4 linked regions of the Homo sapiens genome follow. The protein of the gene in region 1 purifies or fractionates together with the protein of each later gene. This does not show direct contact. Each region holds a gene or a part of one and is shown in the gene's direction. Other genes may lie near its edges.

What was found.
Region 2: the proteins of PCDHAC2 (region 1) and ZDHHC18 purify together in Homo sapiens (affinity purification with mass spectrometry; 2 studies listed by BioGRID and IntAct, with this or other methods). This does not show direct contact.
Region 3: the proteins of PCDHAC2 (region 1) and CGRRF1 purify together in Homo sapiens (affinity purification with mass spectrometry; 2 studies listed by BioGRID and IntAct, with this or other methods). This does not show direct contact.
Region 4: the proteins of PCDHAC2 (region 1) and PIGQ purify together in Homo sapiens (affinity purification with mass spectrometry; 2 studies listed by BioGRID and IntAct, with this or other methods). This does not show direct contact.

The regions. Positions count from the first base shown.
Region 1 is NC_000005.10:140,972,976-140,976,475, forward strand, and holds part of PCDHAC2 (protocadherin alpha-C2 isoform 1 precursor), read left to right. Parts: intron 1-3,500. UniProt on the Homo sapiens protein: Potential calcium-dependent cell-adhesion protein. May be involved in the establishment and maintenance of specific neuronal connections in the brain.
Region 2 is NC_000001.11:26,843,688-26,847,187, forward strand, and holds part of ZDHHC18 (palmitoyltransferase ZDHHC18), read left to right. Parts: intron 1-3,500. UniProt on the Homo sapiens protein: Palmitoyltransferase that catalyzes the addition of palmitate onto various protein substrates, such as CGAS, HRAS and LCK. Acts as a negative regulator of the cGAS-STING pathway be mediating palmitoylation and inactivation of CGAS.
Region 3 is NC_000014.9:54,519,906-54,523,405, forward strand, and holds part of CGRRF1 (cell growth regulator with RING finger domain protein 1), read left to right. Parts: intron 1-2,548; coding exon 2,549-2,688; intron 2,689-3,500. UniProt on the Homo sapiens protein: Able to inhibit growth in several cell lines.
Region 4 is NC_000016.10:576,468-579,967, forward strand, and holds part of PIGQ (phosphatidylinositol N-acetylglucosaminyltransferase subunit Q), read left to right. Parts: intron 1-1,911; coding exon 1,912-2,038; intron 2,039-2,317; coding exon 2,318-2,471; intron 2,472-2,601; coding exon 2,602-2,713; intron 2,714-3,500. UniProt on the Homo sapiens protein: Part of the glycosylphosphatidylinositol-N-acetylglucosaminyltransferase (GPI-GnT) complex that catalyzes the transfer of N-acetylglucosamine from UDP-N-acetylglucosamine to phosphatidylinositol and participates in the first step of GPI biosynthesis.

The DNA.
Region 1 (3,500 bases):
TTAAGGTAGATTCTGTGCATTTGTGGTCGTGGTGTTGTGATTGTTAATGAGTCACTTTGAGTACTCTAGTAGATTTGTCCAACAGTGTCTCAGTGGGCCCAGCTGGCACAACATGTAGAAATTATGAAAGAGTAGCAGAGATGAATTAAGTTTGCATTCACTTTCACTTATTTTAAAGCAATTTGTAGTCACCAAACCTTCAGTTATTTCTGCCACTATGTGTGCATATTCACCCTAATTCCAGGTATAGTGACCTGAAAGAGTTAATTCTTCTTTCAGTGGCACCTACTTTTATTTCCCCCAGCACTGATTTTTCTATCTGATGACTCTATCCTGGAACAGAGTTTACACTCGTTGTAAAGTGACATAGTAGTGAATTTATAAAAATTGCACAATGGTCAGAATAGACAAAGAAATCATATCTATGAGCTTCCACTCCAGTTTTTCATCCTCTGATGGTCACTTTATAATGACTGGGGCTGTTTTAGTTTGCAAATTTCATATTGGTCACAGGACTCTTCTTCTGAGAAAAAGTTTATTTTCTTTGGTCTGATGATACAATAATTTATTTCAATTACCTCTTTCCTCAATTTTTCTACAGACTGCTGAGCCAGATGGAATTATGGCTGAGCTCTTCTCTGTTTCTGTATCTTGTACACATTCTGACTGAAGAAGAAATCTATTTATTGTAGCTTGAATGTCATTGGCCTACTGTTTCCTTCTGACCCAGGAGTGAGCCATCACATGGGCATCTGGTCTAACTCAGAACACTCTGCAGGGACACAGCCTGGCATATTATAGGTTGCCTATTGGCATGCTGTCTACTTGACAGAATAGCAAAGTCAGTTCTGGGTACTTGCTTGTTGCCTACCAATTTTTGCTCTCAATGAGAGGTCAGAATAATGTCAATTTGCAAATGTTTGAGGAAACATTCCTGTCACCAAACCCAGAGGTTTAGCTGAATATGATGGCATTTTACAGGTGTCTTTAAATGTGGCTTTTACAGAACTTCACCTGGATCAATGTTTTGTGCATGTGATAATACAACTATAAATTTAGCTTATTAATATGATAATATTTGGAGCAGTATAATCTATAACCATGACTTCAAAAATCAAAGGTTAAAAGTATTCTTTTGCAGTGTTTTAAATCTGCTAACCTGAAAACTATACAAGGGTTTTTCTTTCAAGAATTTTAACTTGACAAATGCAAAGGAATATCCAACATTGCAAAGGTAAAGAGAAATCTTAGTTCCTTGGCATATAAGCACCATCAGTTCCTTTCTGGCCTTCCAGGGTCAGAACTCTGGGCTCCAAGGAGGTACAACTGTGAGTGAGAGAGTAGCTGCTGTGCTAGCAGGCTATGCATCCAGAACTAAACAGACCTAGCACTTTCTGTTGTACTGGAACCCATTAGGTATGTTCTAAAGTTATGTTTATTTTACTTTCCTGGTTTGTAAATTAGCATTTTAAATGACTACATTCAGAGGAAAGTATTCCACCCAGAATTCTCAAATGTATTACCTTTGTGTTTTATTTTATTTTAGTTTTTTTGAGACGGAGTTTTGCTCTTGTTGCCCAGGCTGGAGTGCAATGGCATGATCTTGGCTCACTGCAACCTCTGCCTCCAGGGTTCAAGCGATTCTCCTGCCTCAACCTCCCGAGTAGCTGAGATTACAGGCATGCGCCACCATGCCTGGCTAATTTTGTATTTTTGGGTTTCACCATGTTGTTCAAGCTGCTCTCGAACTCCTGTCTCCACCTTGGCCTCCCAAAGTGCTGGGATTACAGGTATGAGCCACTGCGCCCAGCCCTCATTTTGATATACTAGAAGACCAATATGCAACATAATGATTATTTTAAATGTTATATTCCCTTTTGCCTTAATGCGGAACAGTCTATGTATCCCTTTTCTGATGATTTGTAACAAATTACCACAAGTAAGTTGTTTAAAACACCACCTATTTGTTATCTCACAGTCCTGTACCATGTGGCTGAGTTGTCCGCTCAGGTATTCTCAAGGCTGAAATGAACACAGCTGGGCTGTGTTGTCCTTTGCAGGCTCTTAGGAAGAATCTACTATCGAGCTCATTCAGATTGTTGGCAGAATCCAGTTGTTTGGGGACTGAGATCTCTGTTTTCCTACTTACTATTGGCCTGGGGTCACTCTCAGTTCCTAGAGAACTGAGGACTCAGGACTCTTGTCCCATGGTCTGCTCCATCTTCATGGCTGGCACTGGAGAATCTTCCCTCACATGGAATCCCTCTTATGCTTCAGATCTCTCTGATTTCTGTCTCTGACCTCTAGACCCAGATTTAAAGAGCTCATGTGATTATGTCAGTCCCATCCAGATGATCTCCCTTTCTTAAAGCCAACTGTGCTACATAGCATAATGTAATCATGGGAATAAGATCCATCACAATCACAGTCTTGGAGACTATTCAGGGTGTGCACACCAGGATATAGGGATCTTGGGGCCATCTTGGAATTCTGCCTATCAGTTTATATCAATGTTCATAAAATAGCACTATGCAAAATCTGCAGTGGATATATTCTTAATACAGTCCTATTAGGAAGGAAAAGGAGATATTATATGCAGTCTCATGTCCCAGAGGGCAATTTGTTGATGTCTTCCACATGGATTTCCATGGTACGAAGATAGCATATTATTTCATTGAGTAGTTGTGTGAGTTTATTAATAAAATAGGGTATTTTAAACTTATTTTACTTTAAATCTTAGAAGAGGTGATTCATCCTTCTGTAGCTCAAATATTCTATGTCATAAATCACAGATAATACCATTACAAGATAAATTAAATCTTTTTTATAATTTTAATAGGAACTGAAGTGTATTCTTATTCTTCAGTAATACTACATCACCCATATGGACTACCTAATTGATTTTTTCCACATATGGAGTTTTGTGACCATTATTCTACCAAAAGACTAACCTTTGAAGCAATAGGACATATTAGAGTTCTTCACCAATAGAAAGTAAGCATAGTCCTGGGAGGTACCATCTAAGTATTAAAGAACTAAATAATCACAGTTATTTCAACTGTGATTGAAATTGTGATAGTAATATATGTCTTACTGTGTCAGATATATCAGTAGTCAACTTTTCAACTTGAATTTTTCCAAGTTTAATCAAGTTCTGGATGAAACTCATGTACATTTTACTACTTTTAGTTTTGTATTGTTTTAAATCAATATCCTGGAAACTCAGAAGTAAAAAAGAGAAAGAAGAAAAATATATGTCATTTCATGTAAATTTATTTAAAACACAGACTTTTGGCAAGGCACAGTGGCTCAAGCCTGTAATCCCAGCACTTTGGGAGGCCGAGGAGGGTGGATTGCCTGAGGTCAGGTGTTCAAGACCAGCCTGGCCAACATGGTGAAACCCCATCTCTACTAAAAATTCAAAAATTAGCCAGGTACGGTGGCAGATGCCTGTAATCCCAGCTACTAGGGAGGCTGGGGAAGAAGAATTGCTTGAATCC
Region 2 (3,500 bases), on another chromosome or scaffold:
GCTGAGGCAGGAGAATTGCTTGAACCTGGGAGGCGGAGGTTGCAGTGAGCCGACATCATGCCACTGCACTCCAGCCTGGGCAACAGAGCAATATTCCGTCTCAAAAAAAAAAGGTATAGAAATTTTAAGTGTTCTGTCTGATGAATGTTCACAAACTGAATGTACACATGTAATCAGCACTGAGATCAAGAAACAGTATATGACTGGCATCCCAGGAGCCCCCTCATGCCCCCTTCCAATCACTGTCACTCTCCAAGGGTTACACAATCCTAATTTCTAACACCATGGATTACTTTTGCCTATTTTTGAACATTTTGTACTGTATGTCTGGCTTCCTCACTTTACACAATTTGTTTTGTTTTGTTTTTTTGTGATGGAGTCTCGCTCTGTCACCCAGACTGGAGTGCAATGGCGTGATTTCAGCTCACTGCAACCTCCATCTCCTGGGTTCAAGCAATTCTCCTGCCTCAGCCTCCCGAGTAGCTGGGATTACAGGTGCACACCACCATGCCCAGCTAATTTTTGTATTTTTGTAGAGATGGGGTTTCACCATGTTGGCCGGGCTGGTCTTGAACTCCTGACCTCAAGTGATCTGCCCGCCTTGGCCTCCCAAAGTTCTGGGATTATAGGTGTAAGCCACTGCACCCGGCCAGACAATGTTTATGAGATTCATTAATATTATTGTGTGTAGTTGACGATGGTTCGATTCTCATTGCTATATAGAATTCCACTGTGTGAATATACTACTTTTTAAAAACATCCATTCTACTACTGGGGTGTTTGGGTAGTTCTGGAGTTTGTCTATTATGAGAATTATTGCTGTGAACATCCTTGTGCATGTCTTTCAGAGCACATTATCTCATGCACATTGCTGTTGGGTAGATGCCTGGGAGCAGGTTTTCTGGGCGTGCATATGTTCAGCTTGGGTAGCTGTTGCCAAACAGTTGTCCAAAGCGGTCATATGAGATTTCTAGTTGCTCTACTTTTTTACCAACACTTGGTATGTTTTATTTTTTTTCATTTTAGCCATTCTAGTGCATGTGTCATAGTAGCATATTGTGGTCTTAATTTGCATTTCCTCGCTGACTAATGAATATAAGCACTTTTTCACGTGTTTATTGGCTGTTTGGACAGCCTCTTTTATGAGATGCCTACTTAAGTCTTTTGTCCGTATTTGTATTCAGTTGTCTGACTTTCTTACTGACTTACAGGATTTCTTTACATGGTTTTTTTTTTTGGTTTTTTTTTTTTGAGATGGAGTCTTGCTCTGTCACCCAGGCTAGAATGCAGTGGCGCAATCTCGGCTCACTGCAATCTCCGCCTCCTGAGTTCAAGTGATTCTCCTGCCTCACCCTCCCAAGTAGCTGGGATTACTTACAGGCATGCGCCACCATGCCCGGCTAATTTTTGTATTTTTAGTATAGACGAGGTTTCACCAGTTTGGCCAGGCTGGTCTCGAACTCTTGACCTGAGGTCATCCACCTGCCTCGGCCTCCCAAAGTGCTGGAATTACAGGCTTAAGCCAAGGCGCCCAGCCCTTTACATATTCTTCATACAAGTCCTTTGTCTTTGTTTACAAGATGTAAACATCTTGTAATTATCCATTCCTGCTCTAAAGGTTACTTCTTCATTCTTTTTTTTTTTTTTTTTTTTTTTTTTTTTTTTGAGACAGTCTCTCTCTGTCACCCAGGCTGGAGTGCAGTGGCATGATTTCAGCTCACTGTAACCCCCACCTCCCTGGTTCAAGTGATTTTCATGCCTCAGCCTCTTGAGTAGCTGGGATTACAGGCGCCCACCACCACACCCAGCTAATTTTTGTATTTTTAGTAAAGATGGGATTTCACCATGTTGGCCAGGCTGGTATCGAACTCCCAACCTCAGGTGATCTGCCTGCCTTAGCCTCCCAAATTGCTGGGATTACAGGCTTGAGCCACCGCGCCCGGCCTCATTCTTTTTTTTAATCATCCAGCCCCAAAAAACTCTTCATTCTCTTAATGATTACCTTTAAATGAAAAAAAAATTTAATTTTGATATAATGCAGTTTATCAAATTGCTCTTTTATGATTAGCCCCTTTGTGTCTTTTGTTTGTTTGAGACAGGGTCTTGTTCTGTTGGAAAGGCTGGAGTACAGTGGCACAATCATGGCTCACTGCAGCCCCAAACTCCTGAGCTCAGGCAATCCTCCTGCCTCAGCCTCCTGAGAAGCTGGGACCACAGGCATGAGCAACCATGCCCAGCCACCTCCATATGAGTTTTGGAATGAGTTTGTCAATTTTCACAAAAACAACCTACTGGGATTTTTGACTAGGATTATGTTGAATCTGTGGATTAGGGAGAATAAATCCTTTCATAATATTCAGTCTTCCAATCCATGAATATGCTATATCTCTGCCTTTTTTTCTCTTAAATTTCTTTTGTGTGTGTGTATATATATATGTGTGTGTATATATATGTGTGTATATATATACATGTATATATGTCTATATATACACATATATCTATATACATACATATATACACGTATATACATATATATGTGTATATAGAGAGAGAGATATATAGATATATATCTCTATAGAGATATATGTGTGTGTGTGTGTGTGTATATATATATATATATATATTTTTTTTTTTTTTTTTTTTTTTTTTTTTTTTTTGAGGCAGAGTCTCGCTCTGTCTCCCAGGCTGGAGTGCAGTGGCCCAATCTCGGCTCACTGCAAGCTCTGCCTCCCGGGTTGACGCCATTCTCCTGCCTCAGCCTCCCGAGTAGCTGGGACTACAGGCGCCCGCCACCATGCCCGGCTGATTTTTTTGTATTTTTAGTAGAGACGGGGTTTCACTGTGTTAATCAGGATGGTCTCCTGACCTCATGATCCGCCTGCCTCGGCCTCCCAAAGTGCTGGGATTACAGGCGTGAGCCACCATGCCCAGCCTTAAATTTCTTATTATGAAAATTTCAAACACACAGAAAAAGCAGGAAGGATTATAGTACAACTAATTCCTGTACATTCACCATCTAGATTGAATAGTAGTTGATAGTGCATCTTATTTGCATATATATGTTTGTTCTTCTCAAACTATTTCATAGTAAATTATAGACATCATAGATACTTTACCTATAAATATTTCAACATATGTCTTAAAAATCTAAGGATAATCTCCTACATAATCACAATTCCATTATCATACCTAAGAAAATTCATTGTTCCTAATTTTTTTTTTTTTCGAGACAGAGTCTCCCACCGTCGCCCAGGCTGGAGTGCAGTGGCATGATCTCGGCTCACTGCAAGCTCCGCCTCCCGGGTTCAAGCGATTCTCCTGCCTCAGCCTCCCGAGTAGCTGGGACTACAGGCACACGCCACCACAACCGGTTAATTTTTTGTATTTTTAGTAGAGACGGGGTTTCACCGTGTTGGTCAGGATGGTCTCGATCTCCTGACCTCATGATCCGCCCGCCTCGGCCCCCCAAAGTGCTGGGGTTACAGATGTGAGCCACCACA
Region 3 (3,500 bases), on another chromosome or scaffold:
CTCTATTACATATCTGTCCACATTAATCCACTCTTTTATCCATACATTGGTCTATCTTATTTCACGATGCCCTTCAAAGTGAGTTGTACTCTTCACCTGTAAGTTCTAAAACATTACATATTACTGATTAGAGTTCAGTGTTTGTTTTCGTTTATAGTTTTTTGAAGTAACATTTACATATAAGATACACAAATCTTATTTTTTATTTATTTATTTTTTTTGAGATGGAGTCTTGCTCTGTCGCTCAGGCTGGAGTGCAATGGCGCGATCTTGGCTCACTGCAAGCTCAGACTCCCAGGTTCACGCCATTCTCCTGCTTCAGCCTCCCGAGTAGCTGGGACTGCAGGCGCCCACCACCACGCCTGGCTAATTTGTGTGTGTGTGTGTATGTGTGTGTGTGTGTATTTTTAGTAGAGACGGGATTTCACTGTGTTAATCAGGACGGTCTCGATCTCCTGGCCTCATGATCCATCCGCCTCGGCCTCCCAAAGTGCTGGGATTACAGGTGTGAGCCACCGCACCCGGCCAAGATGTACAAATCTTAAGTGTACCATTTACCAAGTGTTATCAAACACATCATCTATACAGCTTAAGCCTCTGTCAAGATACTGAACGTTACCGTCAATTTTCTTATGCTCTTTCCCAGTCAGTCCTACTCCTGTACTTCCGGAAGCAACCATTGTTCTCATTTTTATTTCTACCATAAATTTGTTGTGCCTGCTCTAGAATTTTATATTAGAGAAGGATACAGCATTTATTCTTTTGTGTAAGGCTTCTTTTGCATAGCACGATGTTTCTGAAATTTATCCATTTGATTGTAGTAATAAGTTGTTCCTTTTCACTGCTGAATACTTCTATTCTTTTCTTTAAATATACCACAGTTTGTTTACTCATTTCAGCGGAGTCTTTCTTTTTTCTTAAAGCATATGGGACTCAGGTATCTGTGGGGTCTTTTTAATTTTTCTTTTTCTTTTTTATCTATCACTGATATGTATTTGGAGAGAAGGGAGTGCATCAAATAGGCTCCTAACTGTGCCGTCTTTAACTAAAATTTCCTAGTTTAACTGGTGTGTATTAATTTTAGATTATTTTATGTAAATTGAGTAAAGTAGCTGTTTTTTAATTTTATTGGGAATTGAATTTAGCCCCTTTCATTTTCCTTTTAATTCTGTTCCATGGGCATTGTCAGAGTTTACATTTTTACATGAAATTTAAAAGTAGAAGATATATAAATGAAGAGCTATAGTTGGTGTTTTAAAAGTTCCATTGTCCTGGCTGGGTATGGTGGCTCACGCCTGTAATCCCAGCACTTTGGGAGGCTGAGGTGGGCGGATCACCTAAGGTCAGGAGTTCGAGACCAGCCTGGTCAATATGGTGAAACCCCGTCTCTACTAAAAATACAAAAATTACCTGGGCATGGTGGCACATGCCTGTAATCTCAGCTACTTGGGAGGCTGAGGCAGGAGAATTGCTTTAACCCGGGAGGCAGAGGTTATAGTGAGCCAAGATCACGCCATTGCACTCCAGCCTGGGCAACAAGAATGAAACTCCATCTCAAAAAAAAAAAAAGTTCCGTTGTCCCATAAATCATATTAGTCTGCCTCTTTTTTCTTTTGAGAGACGAAATCTTGCTCTGTTGCCCAGGCTGGAGTCCAGTGGCACGATCTCGGCTCACTGCAACCTCTGCCTTCCGGGTTCAAGCCAGTCTCCTGCCTCAGCTTCCCAAGTAGCTGGGTCTACAGGTCCACGCCACCATGCCCAGCTAATTTTTGTATTTTTATTAATGACAGGGTTTCACTATGTTTTGGCCAGGCTGGTCTCGAACTCCTGACCTCAAGTGATCCTCCCACCTTGGCCTCCCAAAGTGCTGGGATTACAGGCATGAGCCACCACACCCGGCCAATAGTCTGCCTCTTGAATATATATTTCTTTTTCACATTTAAAAAAATTCAATAAGTTCATCATGTGTTTGCTGTTAAATTAAGTATAATTTATCTATAATCTCCATACTCCTTTGGTGTTATCAACAGTATTAACAATAGAACTCTTTGTTTTCAAGAATGTGTTGATTCAGCCAGCTGAACAATACCTAGTCCTTCCTTGATATCTGAGGGGGATTGATTCTAGGATACCCACCCCCCATATTCTAGGATGCTTAAGTCCCTTATATAACATTACATAGTATTTGCATATAACCTACACACGTCCTTCTGTACACTTCAAATTATCTCTAGATTACTTACACCTAATGTAAATGCTGTGTAAACAGTTGTTATACTGTATTGGTTTTGAATTTGTAGTATTTTTTATTGTTATTTTTTATTCTTCCCCCTCGTCCCCAAATATTTTTGATGTGCACTTGGTTCATACAGAGGGCCAACTGTTTTGCAGTTCTGTGGGATCTCTAAAATAACGTAAATTGAGAAATTTAACCTCTTTCTGACACTTAATGCTAAAAGGAATCGCTAATGAAGCACAACAGATTTTACACATAACATAAAGTTTCAACATTTGTTAAAATAATATTTTATTTTTTACCTTTTTTTAGGTTTGGTTGGGATGTTCCAGTAATTCTGAGAAATTCAGAAGAGACCCAGTTCAGCACAAGAGTTTTCAAAAAGCAAATGAGACAAGTCAAGAATCCTTTTGGCTTAGAGATCACTAATCCATCTTCAGCTTCAATTACAAGTTGGTGGCTGTTTTCCAAAGATTTTCTCTCATTGTTTGCCCTCTTTTTTTAGCCCTTTTATTTTCTTTCTCTATTTCTTTCCCTTCATTAGACTTTTAACAAACATTTGTTGGGCAACTATGTTGTTCCAGGTGCTGTACTGTATATGACAGATACAAAGATTAAGAAGTTACAAACTTTACTCCTGAAGAATTTATCACCTAGTAAACAGAGGTAGATGTGTATACAAAGGAGTAGAATGAAGTATTACAGGTGTTAATAGTGAAGTCTCTTAGGACACTATGCCATTTTTATTGGTCTGTAGTAAAGTGAGAAATGATGTGTTATGTCTAAATACAGTTAACGTAAGGTTGCTAACCTTTTGAGGAACAATTGCCTTTTTATTTTTTTTGAGACAGATTCTTACTCTGTCATCCAGGCTGGAGTGCAATGGCACAATCTCGGCTCACTACAGCCTCCACCTCCCGGGTTCAAGCGATTCTCCTGCCTCAGCCTCCCAAGTCACTGAGATTACAGGCATGCACCACCACACCTGGCTAATTTTTGTTTTTTTAGTAGAGACAGTGTTTCACCATGTTGACCAGGCTGGTCTCAAACTCCTGACCTCAGATGATCCACCCACCTCAGCCTCCCAAAGTGCTGGGATTACAGGTGTGAGCCACTGCGCGCGGCCAGAATGATTGTCATTTAATCTGAAACTATGGTATTTTGGTATAAATTATTTTGATATAACATGTTCTTTTGTAGATGGTAGGTAATAGATGGCAGTTGTTTGCTTTTGTACTTGCTTGGAAAAATAAGTTGTCTGCAG
Region 4 (3,500 bases), on another chromosome or scaffold:
TCTGAAGGGGCTGTGTGCAGGAGCCAGCCGGGCTGAGGCTCTGGGGAGCCCGCCTCTCCCTGTGGGCCCAGCGTCCTGGTATCTCCCTTGTGGTCCCTGAGATCAGCGTTGCCCTCCTGGCTCTCTGGGGCCCTCTGCAGAGCCAGGGTCATGAAACCTTTCCTGTCCAGGGAGGCCCATGTGCAGCCCAGCTGGGACTTCCTGCCCTGCCCCTGTGCTGATTCTGTAACTCCTGTGCTGAGAGCCAGAGGCACAGCTTGTCTCCCATCTCCCACCTTCCCTGCATGGTCTGTGCCCCGTTTCCAGCCGGGTGCAGCCCCCTCCTCTGCAGATCTAGTGCATTTCCATGCTGCCTCTGGGCCTTCAGCTTCTCTGTCTTCCTCCCTCAGCACCAAAGCCCCGTCTCTTCCATTAGGAGCTTGTCTTCCTGCTGGGGGTGGTACCTGACTCTTTGGCCCACCCTCGGGCCTCTGTGGAGGCCTCCTTGAGGCCTGACTGGGTGGGTCTTGTGTGGGCTGCAGGTGTGCACTGGGCCTGCTTGTGGCCAGGCCAGGCCTCTGGGGGCAGCATCAGGCACGTCTGTGTGGCTGTGGGGGTGCAGGGAGCTCCAGCCCAGAAGGAAGGAGGGGCGGGGCTGGGGAAGGGGCTCGGCAGCTTTGCCTGTGGTCGTCCGCACCTGCCACCGGCCTACTTTGTCCTAGACCTCCCTTTTGCAAAAGTGCTCAGAAATATAAATATTTAATTTAAAAATGAAAGTCTCTTCCTGCTGCCAAGCTCTTATCCTTTAAATATTAAATAAGCTCTATTTATAAAGAATGTTCTTTTCTCAGCCGGGGGTGGTGGCTCATGCCTGTAATCCCAGCACTTTGGGAGGCCAAGGCGGGCGGATCATGAGGTCAGGAGATCGAGACCATCCTGGCTAACACAGTGAAATCCCGTCTCTACTAAAAATACAAAAAATTAGCCAGGTATGGTGGTGGGCACCTGTAGTCCCAGCTAATTGGGAGGCTGAGGCAAGAGAATGGCGTGAACCCGGGAGGCAGAGCTTGCAGTGAGCCGAGATCTCACCACTGCACTCCAGCCTGGGCGACAAAACAAGACTCCGTCTCAGAAAAAAAAAAAAAAAAAAGTGTTCTTTTCTCCTTCTTGCCAGTCCTGCTGTGGCTGAGGCCTTGGCCCAGGCTTGGAAGGGGCCTGCGCAATGGGCAAGTGGGGGCCAAGGTGTCACTCACTGTCTCCTTAGTGGGGAGGCTGAGGCTCCCTTGGGGTCTGCCCGCTGGGGCACAGCCTCTGGATGCTGAGTTTCTTCCTGGGCGGCCAAGACCCTGCTTCCCTGTTTGCTCTTGGGGGTGCCTGTGCCCTCAACTTGACGCCATCCTCCCTCTGGGGACCTGTCCTCCTGCCTGGTCGCTGTGGCCCTGATGGGCTTGGCACTGTCTCGCTCACCTGTGGTCATCCCGGGCAGCCCCCAGCCTCTGCGATGGGGTGGGGCCTCTGGAGGGGACTGTGTCAGCTGTGGGCTTCCCTGCAGGGCTGGAGCCGAATCAGGGTCTGCCAGGCCTCAGTGCGTCCACGTGTTTGGGGCCGAGGGCTCCAGTGGGTCCTGTGGCCGAGGTAGTGAGAGGGGAGGAAGATGGTAGAGGTGGGTGCAGGCAGGGGGCCACGCGGATGCCCTGTGGGCCCGGCCATGTCACCCAGGCCTGCAGAGAGAGGCCTCCAGACCAGCCTCCTCAGACCCCAATCCCGGAGCCATCTGTGAAGGGGAGCCCGTGTGCTGTCCACGCTAGGACGCGGTAGACCCTGGAGGAGGGAAGGCTGGCCAAGGTGGGAGCCCATCACGAAAGAGCCTGGGGAGATGCAGGTGCTGAGCCTGGCTGCCCCCGCCCCAGCGTGGCCCCTGTGTCCCTGCAGCACGTGGCCGAGGAGCTCCAGCATCTGCTGCAGTGGCTGATGGGTGCTCCCGCCGGGCTCAAGATGAACCGTGCACTGGACCAGGTGCTGGGCCGCTTCTTCCTCTACCACATCCACCTGTGGATCAGTGAGTGCAGGGCAGGCGGGGGCCCCAGGGACCCCAGAGCTTGCTGAAGAGGGTAGGGACCCAGCCAGACCCCGCCCCCTGTGCCCCCAACTCTGCTCCCCAGCGTCCTGTGTGTGTGAGGCCTGCTGTGCTCAGCTGAGGGCTGGGGCCTGGGCACCTCCCGAGGGCTGACCCCACCCTGCCAGGCTACACGCACCTCATGTCCTGTGTGTGTGAGGGTTGTGCTGGGCCGAGGGCTGGGGTCTGAGCGCCTCCTGAGGGCCTACCCCACCCTGCCAGGCTACATCCACCTCATGTCCCCCTTCGTGGAGCACATCCTTTGGCACGTGGGCCTCTCGGCCTGCCTGGGCCTGACGGTGGCCCTGTCCCTCCTCTCGGACATTATCGCCCTCCTCACCTTCCACATCTACTGCTTTTACGTCTATGGAGCCAGGTGGGCGTGGGCTTCCCCCTCCCCACCGCCCCCTGGGAGGTGCAGAGGCTCCGGCTGGGCGGGCGTTCGAGTGGGGCGGGGGCGGGGCGGGGCGGGGCGGGGCCGGGCCCGACAGCACTGCGTCCTGTAGGCTGTACTGCCTGAAGATCCATGGCCTGTCCTCACTGTGGCGTCTGTTCCGGGGGAAGAAGTGGAACGTTCTGCGCCAGCGCGTGGACTCCTGTTCCTATGACCTGGACCAGGTATGGGGCAGGGTTCGTGGCTGGAGGGGCTGACTGCCTCCGGCCTGTGCCCGCTGGGCCAGCGCGGTGCTTGGGCACCACAAGGGGGCAGCCTGCTCCCGTCCTGCAGCTGAGGCCGCGCACAGGCCCTGGGAATAGATAAGTCTGCGGTGTGGGCTGCACGTGGGGCTCTGAAGCAGCGCAGAGCTTCCCTGGGCCACAGAGAAGAGACAGACACACAGCCCCGAAGGTGGTGCAGGCACAGGCCCTAGAGGTGCCCCGGGCCCAGAGACTAGAGATGCCCCGGGCCCGGAGACTAGAGGTGCCCCGGGCCCGGAGACTAGAGGTGCCCCGGGCCCGGAGACTAGAGGTGCCCCGGGCCCGGAGACTAGAGGTGCCCCGGGCCCGGAGACTTGAGGTGCCCCGGGCCCGGAGACTAGAGGTGCCCCGGGCCCGGAGACTAGAGGTGCCCCGGGCCCGGAGACTAGAGGTGCCCCGGGCCCGGAGACTAGAGGTGCCCCGGGCCCGGAGACTTGAGGTGCCCCGGGCCCGGAGACTAGAGGTGCCCCGGGCCCGGAGACTTGAGGTGCCCCGGGCCCGGAGACTAGAGGTGCCCCGGGCCCGGAGACTAGAGGTGCCCCGGGCCCGGAGACTTGAGGTGCCCCGGGCCCGGAGACTAGAGGTGCCCGGGCTCGGAGACTAGAGTTGCCCGGGCCCGTCTGCTGCTCACACTTGCCGCAGCCGCTGGATGCTGCCATGCAGAGCATGTTCTTGGTGACTGTGTGGCCACGCACCGTCTTGGGTGGTC